2 linked regions of the Homo sapiens genome follow. The protein of the gene in region 2 purifies or fractionates together with the protein of the main gene of each other region. This does not show direct contact. Each region holds a gene or a part of one and is shown on either strand. Other genes may lie near its edges.

Region 1 (7,032 bases), about 27 Mb from region 2:
TAAGCTAACGTAAAGGCACAGTTACCAAGTGATTTACATATAAACATTATAATAATCTTGCTATGTCTGGCTTATTAAATGCATTAATTAAAAACTTATTTCAGAATAGTATGTATTAAAAGTAAATACCTTTAGTGCACTAAGAACAGCAGTAAATATGTTAAGCTGCACAGCCTGCTGGCGGACACCTTTAGCTTGTTTAACACATTCAGCAAAGTGATCCAACATTTGTAATCTATAACAATAAGAAAAAAAAATCACATTAGTGACAAATTTTATTCCAATATGGCTCAAAAACGGATAAGAAGAGTACAAGTTAATTGTTTAGCAAATAATTCCCCATGCTATCTCTTTTCTATTTCATTCCCACAGCTAGTCCAAACCAGATCTCCTTCTCCCAAAATATTATATGGACATGCGGTTATTAAATGGAACAAGAAAAGAGTTTCAATTAACAAAATAAGGTCACAATTGCAGTGGTCTTCAACATTAACAGCACTGTCCAACAAAGCGCCTGGCATCTAGTAGACGCTCAAGGTTTCTTGCAAAGATAACAATCATTAATTATGTATCTCCGTGGAAGATTTTTAAGTTAGAAAATTTTAAATGTAGTATAATTCTTTTTCCTATTTTAAAAATACTCTTAGAATAGTACCTCATGTCCTAGCCTCAGAAGCTTTTGGGAAAGTTCAAAAAAGATTTAGCTTTGGCTAATTTTTTTAAATGTAAAAAACCAGAAGTGAATTGTTTTTTATATTAATAAAAAAGAATCAGTTTATTAAAAAAAAAAAATCCATGGCCATCTTAGATGATTTCTCTGTTTTTTTTTTTTTTTTTTTGAGATGGAGTTTCGCTCTTGTTGCCCAGGCTGGAGTGCAATGGCGCGATCTCGGCTCACCACAATCTCCACCTCCCAGGTTCAAGTGATTCTCCTGCCTCAGCCTCCCGAGTAGCATGCGCCACCACGCCTGGCTAATTTTGTATTTTTAGTAGAGACTGGGTTTCTCCATGTTGGTCAGGCTGGTCTCGAACTCCCGACCTCAGGTGATCTGCCCACCTCGGCCTCCCAAAGTGCTGGGATTACAGGCGTGAGCCACTGTGCTCTGCATTTTTTTTTTTTTTTTTTTTTGAGACTGAGTTTCGCTCTTGTTGCCCAGGCTGGAGTGCAATGGTGCAATCTTGCCTCCCTGCAACCTCTGCCTCCTGGGTTCATATGATTCTCCTGCCTCAGCCTCCCGAGTAGCTGGGACTACAGGTGTTCGCCACTACACCCAGCTAATTTTGTATTTTTAGTAGAGAAGGATTTTACCATGTTGGCCAGGCTGGTCTCAAACTCCTGACCTCAGGTGATCTGCCCACCTTTGCCTCCCGAAGTGCTGGGATAACAGGTGTGAGCCACAACGCCCGGCCCATTTCAGAAGATTTTGATAAAAAGAGAGTGAGAGAGCATTCTTCTAAAAAGAAATGATGTGAAACAAAGGAATCCAAGGAAGTTGGATTTAGTACTAAGACAATTATGACCTCAAGTTGGTAATAAAATCTCCCTGAGGTCGCTGTAAGGATTTAAAGCTCAATTTATACTAGTCTACAGGTCTCAGGTCTCAGGTCAAAGCATTATTCAAAACTCATATGAAGATACAGATTCAGATGTACGTGTATACATGCACATTTTGATGTACTTTAAAAAATTCTTAAAAGTAAGTAAGTACCTTTTGTGCACTAAGAACAGCAGTAAATATATTAAGCCGCACAGCCTGCTGGTTGAAAACCAAAGTAGGATCACTTCTTGCTTTTTACCTTTTTAATTTAACATTGTATCATGAGCATCTTCTATCAAAACACTGTCTCTACAAAAATGGACTTTCTATTATTTATTCACTTATCCTCCTACTGTTGAATATTTATGTTATTTATTATATGTTTATATTTTTAATAGAATTTATTTATTTATACTTCATCTTATTCTGTAAAAGTGATCATACAGAATTGAGATAATCCTGGATTTCAGTTATAGCTTTCATAACTAGTTGTATAACCTTGGGTAAACCAAACTCTTAGATATGGATGTCCTTAAGATTTAAAACCAAAATGTTGAAATAGATGCTTTATAAGATTCTTCCACCTTTAACATCATTTAACATTTATGTGGCAACCAAATGTTCTTAAAGATATTTGGGTAAAGTTTCATATTTAAACTTTTTTCTCCTCAAATTAAAAAGCAATTAATCAAGCAACCTACATATTAAAGACATTTTTTATTTTGTAATTTTTGTAGAGATGAGTGTCTCACTATGTTTCCCAGGCTGGTCTGAAACTCCTTGCCTCAAGCAATTCTCTTGCCTTAGCCTCCCAAAGCGCTGGGATTGCAGACATAAGCCACCACACCAGACCCAACAATACTTTTAAGGCATTTTAATTTTGTAAAGCTTTTAAGTTATCTGTGATGGTCTTGTATTAATTCATTTCTGTTTTCCTTTTGGGAAAATCACAATATACAAACTGCCTACTAAAGCTAGGAATAGTGTCTGTGGATACAGAATATACCAAACCAAAATGCTTCTATTACAAAAAGAACCAATTATGTTAGTTTCCAAGTTCTAGACTTGAACCATCTCACAAACGTTATTAGTGATTGGAATTTTCATCCATTTACTTCCTCAACAACAAAGTCAACAGGCTTAGCAAACTGATGTCCTTAATTTAAGATATAGTCAAAACCTATGTATGAACTATCAAACAAACTATTATAATGCATTTTTTTTTTTGCCAACAGTTGTCATTCTAGCATATATAATGAAAATTTTGTTATAAAATACAGTCCACAATACAACAGATATCAGATGCTAGTACACAGGGTCAAATCTTACATAAAGTCTCAAATTATGTGCAATTTGCATGCAATTTTTTTATCATGTATCTGTCACTTACATTAGTAAATCTGTAAGAGTACTGTTTTAAGTATTATAATAACTCACTTTATTGCAGAGTTAACTGGGATGAGAAAATCTACTTTTCGTTTAACATAATATATATTTAACAAAAATTACCTGATTGACTTTATACTAACCGGTGTTTATAAGAAACATGAGGAAACACTACACCAAAAAGGGCCACAGAAGCATCAATGACTGAGACTCCGAGAGGGAGGGGACCAGGTACTGCTTCTCCAGCAGGTATGCGTAAATAAATAGAGGAAGGATCATGCTCCAGAGCCCCACTTCCAGAGGCACTGTTTGGCTGGAGCTGCAAAAGAGTGAAATAAAAATTATTCAAAATCTACTTTAGGAAATCTACTTATTAAACATTGGGAATGAGGATTACAGCAGAGGAGAAAGGAGAAAAGGCAACAAAAAAAGAATGATTGGATCCGAACATTTGAAAACAGACCAAAATGTAATTTGGTCATTAAAAAATCATCAGTAACACCTTATACAAATTTTAAGAAAAGCTTTATTCATTCGAAAACATATTTACACCACCCACCTTATTGCGTGAACAATATACACAAGATCTTAATCCCACAATTATTTTAAATGGGGCTTTAATCACTCTTTAAAAAGTACATAAGAAATAATGTATTCAGTGGGCAAAAGTTCTAAATCTTCAACCTACTAACTCATTCCTCTCCAACCTGTCACAAAACAAAACAAACTAAAACAAAACAAAATACCAATAACCAAAAAGCCAGTTAAAACTGATCTTTATCACAGCCACCACAAGGTATCTAAATACACAGAATATTAAATAAAGACAATTTGCCAAATTCTCACTCTTCCTGTTTAACTTTTTTCACTATCTACCACCAGGATGCCATCTTTAAGTGTCTAAGAACACTAAATGGGGATTAAACCTTTCTATACACTATTTTCTTTTTAAGTGACAATGTGTAATAGGACCATTGTTTCAGATTAAGTTAGTATTTCATTTTCCTCTATGTTTATTACCTGGTCTTCAATTGATTTATGATCAGTTTCCTGAAGCCAAGAACCAAGAAGAACACTATCATCATAATGGCAGAGGGATCTGAGGAGGGAAGTAGTTGTGTTGGCTGAGTTGTCAGTCAAAGTGAATTCCGCTACCAGTTCTCTAAGAAGTGCATTAAAAGATCCTAAAAAACAGAACTTCAGATCAGATTAAAAAGAATAATTTTTGTGAAAATTATAATCATTGCCCACAAAGAGCTGCAACATGTTCAACAGGAATAAAATAATTAAGTCTCTGTTCTCTTCTTTAAAAAAAATCTATATTTAAATGCTGGTTTTAATATACAATAATGGTACTTCCTTTCATATATTGTATTGTGTCTTTTAGCCCAAATTATTTAAAATAACCAAAAAACTCAAATAGAGGAAAGAGAGGCGGGTGCCATAGCATGCTTGTAGTCCCAGCTACTCAGCAGGCTGAGGCAGGAGGATTGCTTGAGCCCAAGAGATTGAGACAAACCTCTGCAACACAGCAAGACCCTGTCTGAAAGACACACACAAACAAAGATACTTTATTTTAAATATATTAAATGTGATATGATTATTATTATTTATTGCCCAATAATGTACAATGAACCACAGCACACCAAAATTCTTTGGCATGATTATACTGGAAAGAAATCAATAGTTTATTTTACTATTAATATTTTACATAATATTTGATTTCTCCCTCCAGATCCTCGAATTATTTGCTATATTACAGTATATAGGAAGCATTTCAGTGTATTAATCAAAAGTGCACACTTTGAAGATAAACCAGCTAGATTTGAATCCAAGCTCTGCCACTTAACTACCTCTAAGTCTTGGGTAAGTTAAGTTTCTTTAAGTCTCTCAATCTGAGATTCTTCATCTATAAAATAGGGCTAAAGGCCTCATAAGTTGCAACACAGTCAAAAAGCTAATACAAAAGGCTGAAAACGAGACCCAGAACACAGTAAGGAGTCAACAAGTATCAGCTACTCTACATGAAGAAAAATAAAATGGTGGCCTTCCTTTGCACAGTAAGTCAGTGGGAGAGCCTTTGTCAAGACTCTATAATACGGTGAAGAATTGTAAAGAAAAATTTTTATCAGATACCACAAATTTTTAATTTACCTTCATAAGTTTTTGGAGGTAACAAAGCCAAGATATCATAAAGTCTTAAACGGACCATTGCAGCACTAGCTTTCAGATGAGCTCCATGGGCTTTCATTACAGATGGAATGCTAAAATATCAAAAACATAGTTGGTAATGGCTTACCAGAATAAGTATTACTTATAAATTTTTTTAGCAATGTATCAATGTACTGCCAAACTACACTGATAAGTATACACTTTCATTTTAGCTTATGTTGTGATCTTTGCTGTAACAAAAACACTTTAAGATACAACTGTATTTCAATCCACACCATTGCTGTAATTTTTAAAGTTATATTACAAAAATAAAGTTTTATGTTTCCTAGATGATTCTAGAAGAAAGCACAAAATATGGCTGAGAAGTATATTATTAATATATAAAATAGGATGTGAACTTGTCTCAATCGCTTACTTACTGTGACATCATAGTCATGGCACATTCAATAGGGGTCATCAATTTTCGAATCACATCTTCAGTTAGTAGCTCAGGACAATGTGCAACGAAGCTCCTCATGGCTAGATAAAATGTTTAAAAGGACAGATTTGGAGTAGCTTTTGTGAACATGAATTAATTTATAAAATTGTATAAATATAAAGGCAGTTGTAATACTTAATTATTATAACGTATAAGGTTCTGAAACCATGTCGAACCAAAAGAAAAACTTGCAACAACTACAAAGAAAAATCGTGGAAAAGGCTAGAAAAAAGGTGGATAGAAAAATGGAGGAAGAGAAGGTACTGGTTAGAGAGATTCTTCGGGTGGAAATTCAGAGGACTATGATCCCATAGGAATTCAGATGACTACAAAGAAAGAAATTTTAAGGCATTGTTTATACACATATACATTTATGTGTATAAACAATGCCTTAAAATTTACATGAAATTTTTACATATATTAAATATATTTTTGCAACTTTTACAGATATATATGTATATGTGTGTGTGTGTGTGTGTGTGTGTGTGTGTGTGTGTGTGTATATATATATATATATATTTTTTTTTTTTTTTTTTTGAGAGAGTCTCACTCTGTCAACCAGGCTGGAGTGCAGTGGCGGAATCTCGGCTCACTGCAACCTCCACGTCCTAGGTTCAAGCAATTCTCCTGACTCAATCTCCTGAGTAGCTGGGACTACAGGCAAGCACCAGCACGCCTGGCTAATTTTTGTATCTTTAGTAGAGACAAGGTTTCACCATATTGGTCAGGCTGGTCTAGAACTCCTGAGAGTGATCCACCCGCCTTGGCTTCCCAAAGTGCTGGGATTACAGGCATGAGCCACAGCACCCGGCCACTACATATATTTTTGCATTTTGAATTTTTACATATATTTGTGTAAATATATATGTATATAAACAAAAATGGTCCAGTGAGAAAAAAATATTTTTATTGGCCCCTTAGCAATAGAGCCTAGACTAAAACACCTCCTAGATGTGTGAGAGTAAAGGTGCCCCCTTGCCTGGCTGCCCTTGTGGTGAAACATGTATCTCTCTCCCAGTTTGGAAAAAGAAGTAGTTTTCACTCTGAGATAAACCAAAAAAGAACTGGTACATCCAATGTCATTCTAGTTATCAAACGAAACAAAACCTGAGCGTTTCCTGTAAGCTGTTAACTCCCAGACAAAAACAACTGTATCCGTTATTTTTGTAATGTTGATATCTGAAAAATATATGAAGGTTTGGAGATTTGATAAGGATGTGAAAAAACAGCTGTTTCTCCATTATGAAAAGACTAACTGCAAATGCCAATAACTTTGGTAATCCTGAGTTTCTTTTTCTTTAAATAGCTGTTGGGTATTTTTTCTTTTTTTTATACATGGTGACTCAGTGCTTCTTTGACAGGTAAGATAGCAACAAGTGGGAATAAGAGGCCTGGGTTCTAGTTCCTGTCTAACCACCAGGTCTAAACACTTTTTCAGAGTCTGGGTTTCATTTTTAT
Region 2 (7,887 bases):
AAACAAACAAACAAACAAAAAAAACAGAAATACATTAAATTTTTTTTTCTAGAACTACCCACGCCACTCATTCAATGGAATGTCATTTACTGAATAAATATGTATCGCCATCAACCATGTACCAGGCCACTTTCTTGAAGTTGGGAATATAGAAATGAATAAAGCAGACAGAAGTCTCTGCCTTCATGCAACTGTTAAAATTGCATGAAAACTATTTCTATTGTATTTCCCTGGATCCTATGACTACACAAATTTAAAGACAGATGTAGGTTTTAAACAAAGGTTCAGCATTGTACAATAGAAATATAATGTGAGCCACATTGTGATTTAAAATTTTCTAGTAGCTAGTTTTAAAAAGTAAAAAGAAACAGGTGAAATTAATTTTAATGTTTTACTTTATATATTTTTGTCATGACTCACTGCAAGGTTTCCACTTCTCTTCACCTTGAAATAAGGGACAAAAGTAGAAATAGAGTTATCACTTCCACAGTGCCCTGAGGCCAATCTCCTTCAAAATAAAGGAGACTTTTCTCCTGAGAGACAAGTTGCTCAGAAAGGTCATGTTTTCTCCAGGTGATCAGGCTGAATTTCACAACATAGCAGGTTGATAGTGGAACCATTATAGCACATAATGAGCCCTTCAAAGCTTTGCTCAGAGCCAAAAGAGAGGCTTGAAGACTAGAATAAAGAAGAAGGTTGGGCTGCAGCTCCCTTCAGGAGAACACTCCATCTATATTGCTCCATATGTGGTAAGCCCATGAGTGGGTACAGGTTCAGTCCTTGGGGCTGTGAAGTGCAAGATCAAGGTGCCAAGAGATTTGGTTGTTTGGTGCGTGCTGTTCTCTGCTTCCAAGATGGCACCTTGTTGTCAAATCCTCCAAAGGGGGTGGAACGCTGGTCCTCATGTAGCAAAAGAATATGTCTAGATAAATCTAGGAAATTAGTTTGAGGTCTTTGATTTAAATGTTACGTATTCAGGTCAATTACCACTACCAGAAGCCCATCCTTCAAAAGTTTTTCGTTGGAAAGTTCTATAAAATTTGTTAGAACTTTATATACAGAATTTGAGCCTTTAAAAAATTTGCTGAAAAAGTTTCAGCACCTTTAGAAATAATGTAGTCAAACAGCAGTTTCTTCCCTACCTCTCCAATTTTATGGATAAAATTAATACTGTCTTAACAGGTTAAGACATATTAAATATTGAAATATTCAATATTTTCCCTGATACATTGAATATGTCCATAAAGTTCTAGATATCCAGTACTCCAGGAAGTACTATAACACCAAATTGTAATTTTTATTATTTATGCAATAAATTTGATAAGCAAATCCAAGAAAGATCAGTGGGAATGATTAAGAAACAAAATCTCTGTTGCTCATCACACTTTGGGAAAGTCGCTCATTATTATTATTATTATTATTATTATTGAGAAGGGGTCTTGCTCTGTCAGCCAGGGTGGAGTGCAGTGGCGCAATCACAACTCACTGCATTCTTGACCTCATGGGCTCAGGTGATCCTCCTACCTCAGCCTCCCGAGTAGCTGGGACTACAGGAGCATGCCACCTCACCTGGCTAATTTTTTGTAAAGATGGAGTTTCACCATGTTACCCAGGCTGGTCTTGAACTCCTGGGCTCAAGTGATCTGCCCACCTCGGCCTCCCAAAGTGCTGGGATTACAGGCGTCACCCATCATGCCCAGCCTAATAACCTATTTTTATAGAACTGTATGAAGGACATATTTCAAGAGGTAGTGGTGACATAATACCTGTAATCCCAGCGTTTTGGGAAGCCAGGGTGGGTGAATTGCTTGAGCCCAAGAGTTTGAGACCAACCTGGGCAACATAGTGAGACCCCATCTCTACAAAAAATAAAAAAATTAGCTGAGCGTGATGACATGCACCTGCAGTCCCAGCTACTTCGGAGGCTGAGGTAGGAGGATCCCTTGAGCCCAGGAGGTTGAGTCTGCAGTGAGCCGTGATGGCACCACTGCACTCCAGCCTGCGCAATGGAGGGAGAACCTGTCTCAAAAAAATAAAAATATAAATAAATAAATAAATAAATAAAATTTTAAGTAAATGTTTAGATACAGAAAGGACCTTGGCGATTATCTGGTGCATATTTCTTAAGCTGTGGTTCAAAGACCCTCTTCTGTGAATGAGCTTTAGGATGAGAAATTTGAGTGTCTGTGGATACAAGCATTTTTCTATAGAAAGAGCCAAAGCTTTTACCGTATTCTTAAAGAGATACATGTGCCAAAACATTATTTGTCCTAAGAGGGTTGAGAACCTGTGATCTGACTGTATTCTCTCATTTGTTATATAAGGAGACTGAGGTCAAGAGAGGTTGAGTAACTTATACAAAATCATAGTGACAACAGAACTGGTCATAGACCCAGGTTCTACGCATATTGCTTTTCCAGAACACCAACACATTGCTGAGGTTTTGTTCTTGCTTGTCTGTTAATTTCTTACACAATATAAAATGAATTAAACTGTTTTCACTTTTTATTCTTTCCATCTTTTTTTCCCCTCTTAATTATCATTCACTGCTGGTTGGTAAGGAGGTGGTAAAATTAGTGCACTCATATATTGCTGGTGGCATTCTAAATTAGCAGTCTCTTGGAAAATAATATGAGATGATAAATTACCAATAAAACATTCATTGCCTTTTCGCTTAGTAACTTTTATACTGAGAAAAAAAATTCTAAAATTGAACAAAGCCACACACACAAAATGTTCATCTAAGTATTATTTTATAATACTGAAAACTATCCATATAGTGGTCATTCCATTGACTACTAAGCAGCCAATTAAAATTAAGGTTTTACATTAAACGATGGGTGGAAATGCTTACAACACAAAAGGGACACAAAATCTACTTAAATTATGATTACAAGTTTGTAAAAAGTACGCACAGGAAAAAAAAACTAGAAGTAAATACAACAAATGTTAACTGGTAATTTTTTTCTTCTTCTTTTCTTGATGCCAAATCTTAGGTAATGCAGTTATGGCCATAATTTTTAAAAGGTAAATAAAAACAATACTATCATTGACTCCAAATGAAATGGACTTTATATTTCCCACAGATTTATCACCTTAAAAACACTCAAATACTTTCCCTTTGTAATAAAATGTCATGAGCATTAGGGCACTGTCTTCGGAATTACATGTAAGATTACCAATTACAAGTTAGTTGGCCAAATAGGTACTCAATTTCCCTATTACAAAATTGTAAGCTGATGGGGGGTGTGCAATTTAATTTAATTTTTTTTTAGACAGGGTTTCACTCTGTCGCGCAGGCTGGAGTGCAGTTTAAATTCATTTAGTTTAAACATGTTCTTAGTGTAGGGTCTGCTTTAAGGTCTAGTCATATGTTCTTATTTTGATATTTCTGTTTAGTAGAGCTGTAAAATGAAAACAAGCATGTGTTCGTTTAAAATCAATTTCTAGTTTCTACACACACACAAATTCAAGCTTGCACACGAGCTAAACCAGCAGGGGGCGAAATACAATAGGCATAAATTTGACAAGCCATATAGATTTTTCTTACTTTAGTGACTGAGCAATAACACAAAATCCAGCATAACCACAAAGCAATTGATACTCCCATTTAAAGTGATGCAGTCTCCGTATATCTTACAGCGATTGAATAGTAAAGAGACAAATGCGGGTCCATTGGAGCGCTCCGAGTTAATTTGTCTAGAACATTGCAGAGGCGGGATAAATCGTGATGAACTGCTATTGTCCTTATCTTTCTCCTGATTTGTATAATTCCTCCACCCAAAGGGGTGGACACTTCTCTGTGCCTGAGGGGATGTTTTCCATTCTTGTTTCTTTGCGTAACTGCTGAGCTTTGCTGTTTTGGAACTATTTTAAATTATTCAAATTACTGATGCAGACGTTTGGCAAATATGGGCAGAATGAGGGGCCGGCGGGGGTCATGATTTGTAGGACCCCGGGCTCATCATCCGAGACAGTAATCATAATCCTGTAGCCTTGTAGTCTGATTGTTACACTGGCAGGTGTTCTAACAGATATTCATTGTAAAGGAGGAGGAAAGGTAATATTTTTATTACCTTTATATAAATAACAGTTGATTATATAAATAATCAACTGTTCAGGACTGATGATGGAAACAAAATCGGTTACGACCTCTGTTCCAGAAATGCGTTTGAATGCATAAGTTTATGGTGATCTCTTTAGCTTCACTAGATATTCTCCGTAAGGGTCTATGAAAAACGACCACCTTCTCCATCCATTAGCCAAATTCCGGACTACTATTTTCTTGTCGGTCTCGAAGACGATTTGTCAGTTTGGCGGCTGCTTTCCCACCTTAAATTCTATTTATCGCAACCTCTTGTTATTTGTTAAATATCAGCTTCTTCCTCTGTCGGCATAAATTTAAAAAGAGGAAGAGACAGGCTGTGAATGAAAAAGTCGTTTTTCGGGGCGAAAAGGGCAAGCTGACGAATGCTCTCTAGTAGGTTTTTGGTAAAAATGTGGTTCTATATTTCCAAACCTTTACAATTTTATTTGGAGAGCAAGAGACTTAATCCGGTCTTGAGCTGAACGTTAACCGGCTGAAAGGAGCACCTGTCCTTCGCCAGGAGCGCAGCCTCAACCGGCGCCTGAGTGCGGGAAGACGTCTATCCCCCTACAGCTCTATGACTCGCAAGGAAGTAAAAGGAAAGGGCAGCTTGCCCGCACCCAAAATGGCGGTCGGCGCTCTGCACGACAGCGCCTGCGCAGGGATAAGCGTTCTGTGACACCAATTCCCCTGGAGTGTCCTCCCCCACCCCACAGCACCCACCAGCGCCCGGTCCCGACCTAGCCACCTGCGCCCGGAAGTGACGTGTCGGCGGCAGCGGTTCCCCCGCTGCATGATGGGAGAGTGTGTGGAGTGGGCGGGGGGTCTCCGCGGAGGAGGTGGAGGAGGCGGCGGCGGCGGCGGAAGAGGGCGGAGGGTAGTGGGATGGGGGTCCCGCGGCAGCGGTGAAACTCCGGGTGGGCGTCCATGGTGCTGCTGCGCTGACAGGGCTGTGAGCAGCCGGCCTTCCGCTCTCACCAGTTCCGCGTCGGAATAGACGGTCCTTCCCCGGGGAGTCAGTTCCTCCCCGGGCCCCTGAGCCATGCCCATCGCAGCCGCCCCGAAGGAGCCAGGTAAGCGCCGCCGCTCCGCTCCCCTAGCTGCGCCGGGGAAAGAGGGTGCGGGGACCAGGCCCGGCCCAGCAGCCAGACCCTCACCCGGGCCGGGAGCATCTGCCCGCCGCGGAGCCGGGAGCTGTGAGGACGGAGCTGGCTCTGCGGGCCTGCGGGCTCCCGGCTCTGCTCTCTTCTGCGGCGAGTGCGGGAACGCCGCTGGTGGCGCCCGAAGCGCACGGCCCCCTCCTCGCCATCCCGGGCACCGGCCGGGTAAGTGGGAGTCCTTCCCTCCCCGGCCACCGCCGGCTCTCCCTGCCCCTTTGCTTCCACCTCCCAAAGCTCCGCGCTGGCTGCGTTCTCCAGGGAGCTGTTCAGAAGTTTGGGGCTTTGCTTGGGCTTCTTCGCTCTCCTTCCCCCTCCCTCGTGACAGGTGTAAACACTGCCTCCTTCACCGAGGCCCGAGGCTGGCCGCGACCTGAGTGTGCTGCTTCCAAGGGTCTCTGAAGCAAGCGAATTTGGAATCCTCCAACAGGCAGAGGGGACAGCCCCAAAGCTCACGCATCCCTTCCTCAGAGTACCTTTTCTGCTGTCTTCTTGCACTCTTCAAGAAATTATCTGCGTCTCCTCTCCAGTTTGCGTTTGAAAAGTTGGACCATATTCCTTAAGTGCCTGGTTTGGCAGGTGCTGCGTCTTGCTTGGGGCAGAGGCAGAGTATGGAGTGAGGGGTGGTAGGGTCCTTGCTCTATTAGGAAAGTAATGGGGATAGCAAGGTTTTTTTTTCCTTGTTGCTTTGTGCAAGTTATAGCTTGGTTATACTGAATCTTTTCTGTTGGGGCCGAGGGAAGAACTGACTCATACATGTAAATTTTTTACTGGGCGGGGGGATGAAACAAAAGTAATGGTTCCGTTTCAAAGTTCTCACTTTAGGAGAAGTAAAGTAGAACTTTGGTTTTCAACTTTTCCTACAGTGTAAGTCTTCCTTCCACCTCCTATTCCGAGGATTTTATTTGGTGGAGGGGAGACACAGAGTTTATCTTTGATGCTACACTTAATTGTTGCTTTCAGTTAACCTCTTAGACATTAAAATATATGCTAAACTCTAGGGACAACAAATGTTTCAACATTATTATGTTAATATAATTAACACAGTCACGTACATTTTATATGCTTTACCAGTTTAAATGTTGGCTTTTTTAGTAGTCATTTTTAACACTTCGCAGAGGTATATTTGTTTAAACAAAGTATCTGTGGTAGTCTCCTAAATTTTGTTCATAAAGATATTTCACATGGATTAAAAGACAGATCTTGTGTAAAACATCTAGCCCAGTAAATGGCACCTAGCAGATATTCATTAGCTCTAGTTGTTCCTCCGTGGATTAAATTAGATATATCAGTTGATCTTCAAAGTACACATATATTTTTAAATCTTCAAAAACCTCTGGAAAAAAATCCACTACAATTCACATAATATGTAGGGCATTTAAGTTTTAATGTTTGCTGATCTTTTGACCTAGAGACTGTTAAAAAATAATCCCGTATCACAACAAGGATAATATGTCCTTAATAGCCTTGATACATCTTGCCGAATCCAGTTTTCGTTATGAAAATTGTATAGTGTGGGTGAATCATATCATAAAACATCATTTTACATTTTCATTTGTTCTGCTTACATTTAGTGAAAAACTAGTTCAGAAATGTAGTGACATTTGAGTACCAAATAATGTTTTATTTTGTGTGAAATCTAAAGTGCTTTCCTCAGCAGGCAAAGTCTTTGAATAGCTTCTCATTAAGGGATTGCCCCTTCTCTCCCAACCCTTCCCCCAAATCTCATAAAAGGAGGCCGCTAAGTATTTAGATATTTTTTAATCATCATAAATTATTTAAATAAAATGTTTATATTCTAATTTAATGTTACCTACACTTTGTAGATTAAAAAATAAAGGTTTTTCCCTCTATTCTTAGCACTTTCAATTCCTTTTTAAGTAGAATAGTGAACCTTTCTAGCCGGAACTTTATAAGTATTTTTAGTTTTTACACTATTTTGAAAATCTGGCATTGTATGGATTTTACATATCTCATTTTGCTAATCATTTTCTCAGTTTGTGCATATATCAGATATAGTCACAAGTTCTTTTGCAGCTTTATATGATAATTGCTAACACATGAGCAGTATATATGTTGCTCATATATATTGCTTCCTATGAGCAAGATAGTTTTCTAAATGCTTTATATACAGTGTACTAACTCAATCCACACAACAACCTGTAAGGCAGTAAGTAGTAGTATCCCTCATTTTTCAGAGAGGAAACTGAGGCACACAGATACTAAGTAACTTGCCTTAGGTCAAACAGCTGTTAAGTGACAGATCCGTTTGCTAGACCATTTATATAGTCTCATGCAAAACTATACTATGTATTGTCTGTGATTTGTGCAATATGTAGCAAAAGTATAACAACATGCATGGGAATGATAAACACCAAGTCAGACTAAAAGTGACCTTTGGAGAACTTGAGAGGGATGAAGGATCTAGGAGGGGCCCATGGGTTTACAAACATATCTTTATATCCTTAAAAAAAATCCGAAGTTGACTTGTTAAGAGATTAAGATTTAACACACCTGGGTGATGGTTACTGGCTCATTCATTATGGCTTTTTTCTCCCTAAGGTTTGCATGAAGTTCTTCACAATGAAATTAAAAGTTTAAAGGCCGGGCATGGTGGCTCACACCTGTAATCCCAGCACTTTG

What was found. Proteins that work in one complex are often made in the same cells at the same time.
Region 1: the proteins of AFTPH (region 2) and HEATR5B purify together in Homo sapiens (affinity purification with western blotting; 2 studies listed by BioGRID, with this or other methods). This does not show direct contact.

What each region holds. Positions count from the first base shown.
Region 1 is NC_000002.12:37,053,373-37,060,404, forward strand, and holds part of HEATR5B (HEAT repeat-containing protein 5B), read right to left. Parts: intron 5,616-7,032; coding exon 5,516-5,615; intron 5,189-5,515; coding exon 5,079-5,188; intron 4,109-5,078; coding exon 3,945-4,108; intron 3,244-3,944; coding exon 3,068-3,243; intron 236-3,067; coding exon 130-235; intron 1-129.
Region 2 is NC_000002.12:64,519,453-64,527,339, forward strand, and holds the start of AFTPH (aftiphilin), read left to right. Parts: upstream 1-4,875; 5' UTR 4,876-5,160; intron 5,161-6,060; exon of another isoform or gene 6,061-6,113; intron 6,114-7,887. UniProt on the Homo sapiens protein: Component of clathrin-coated vesicles.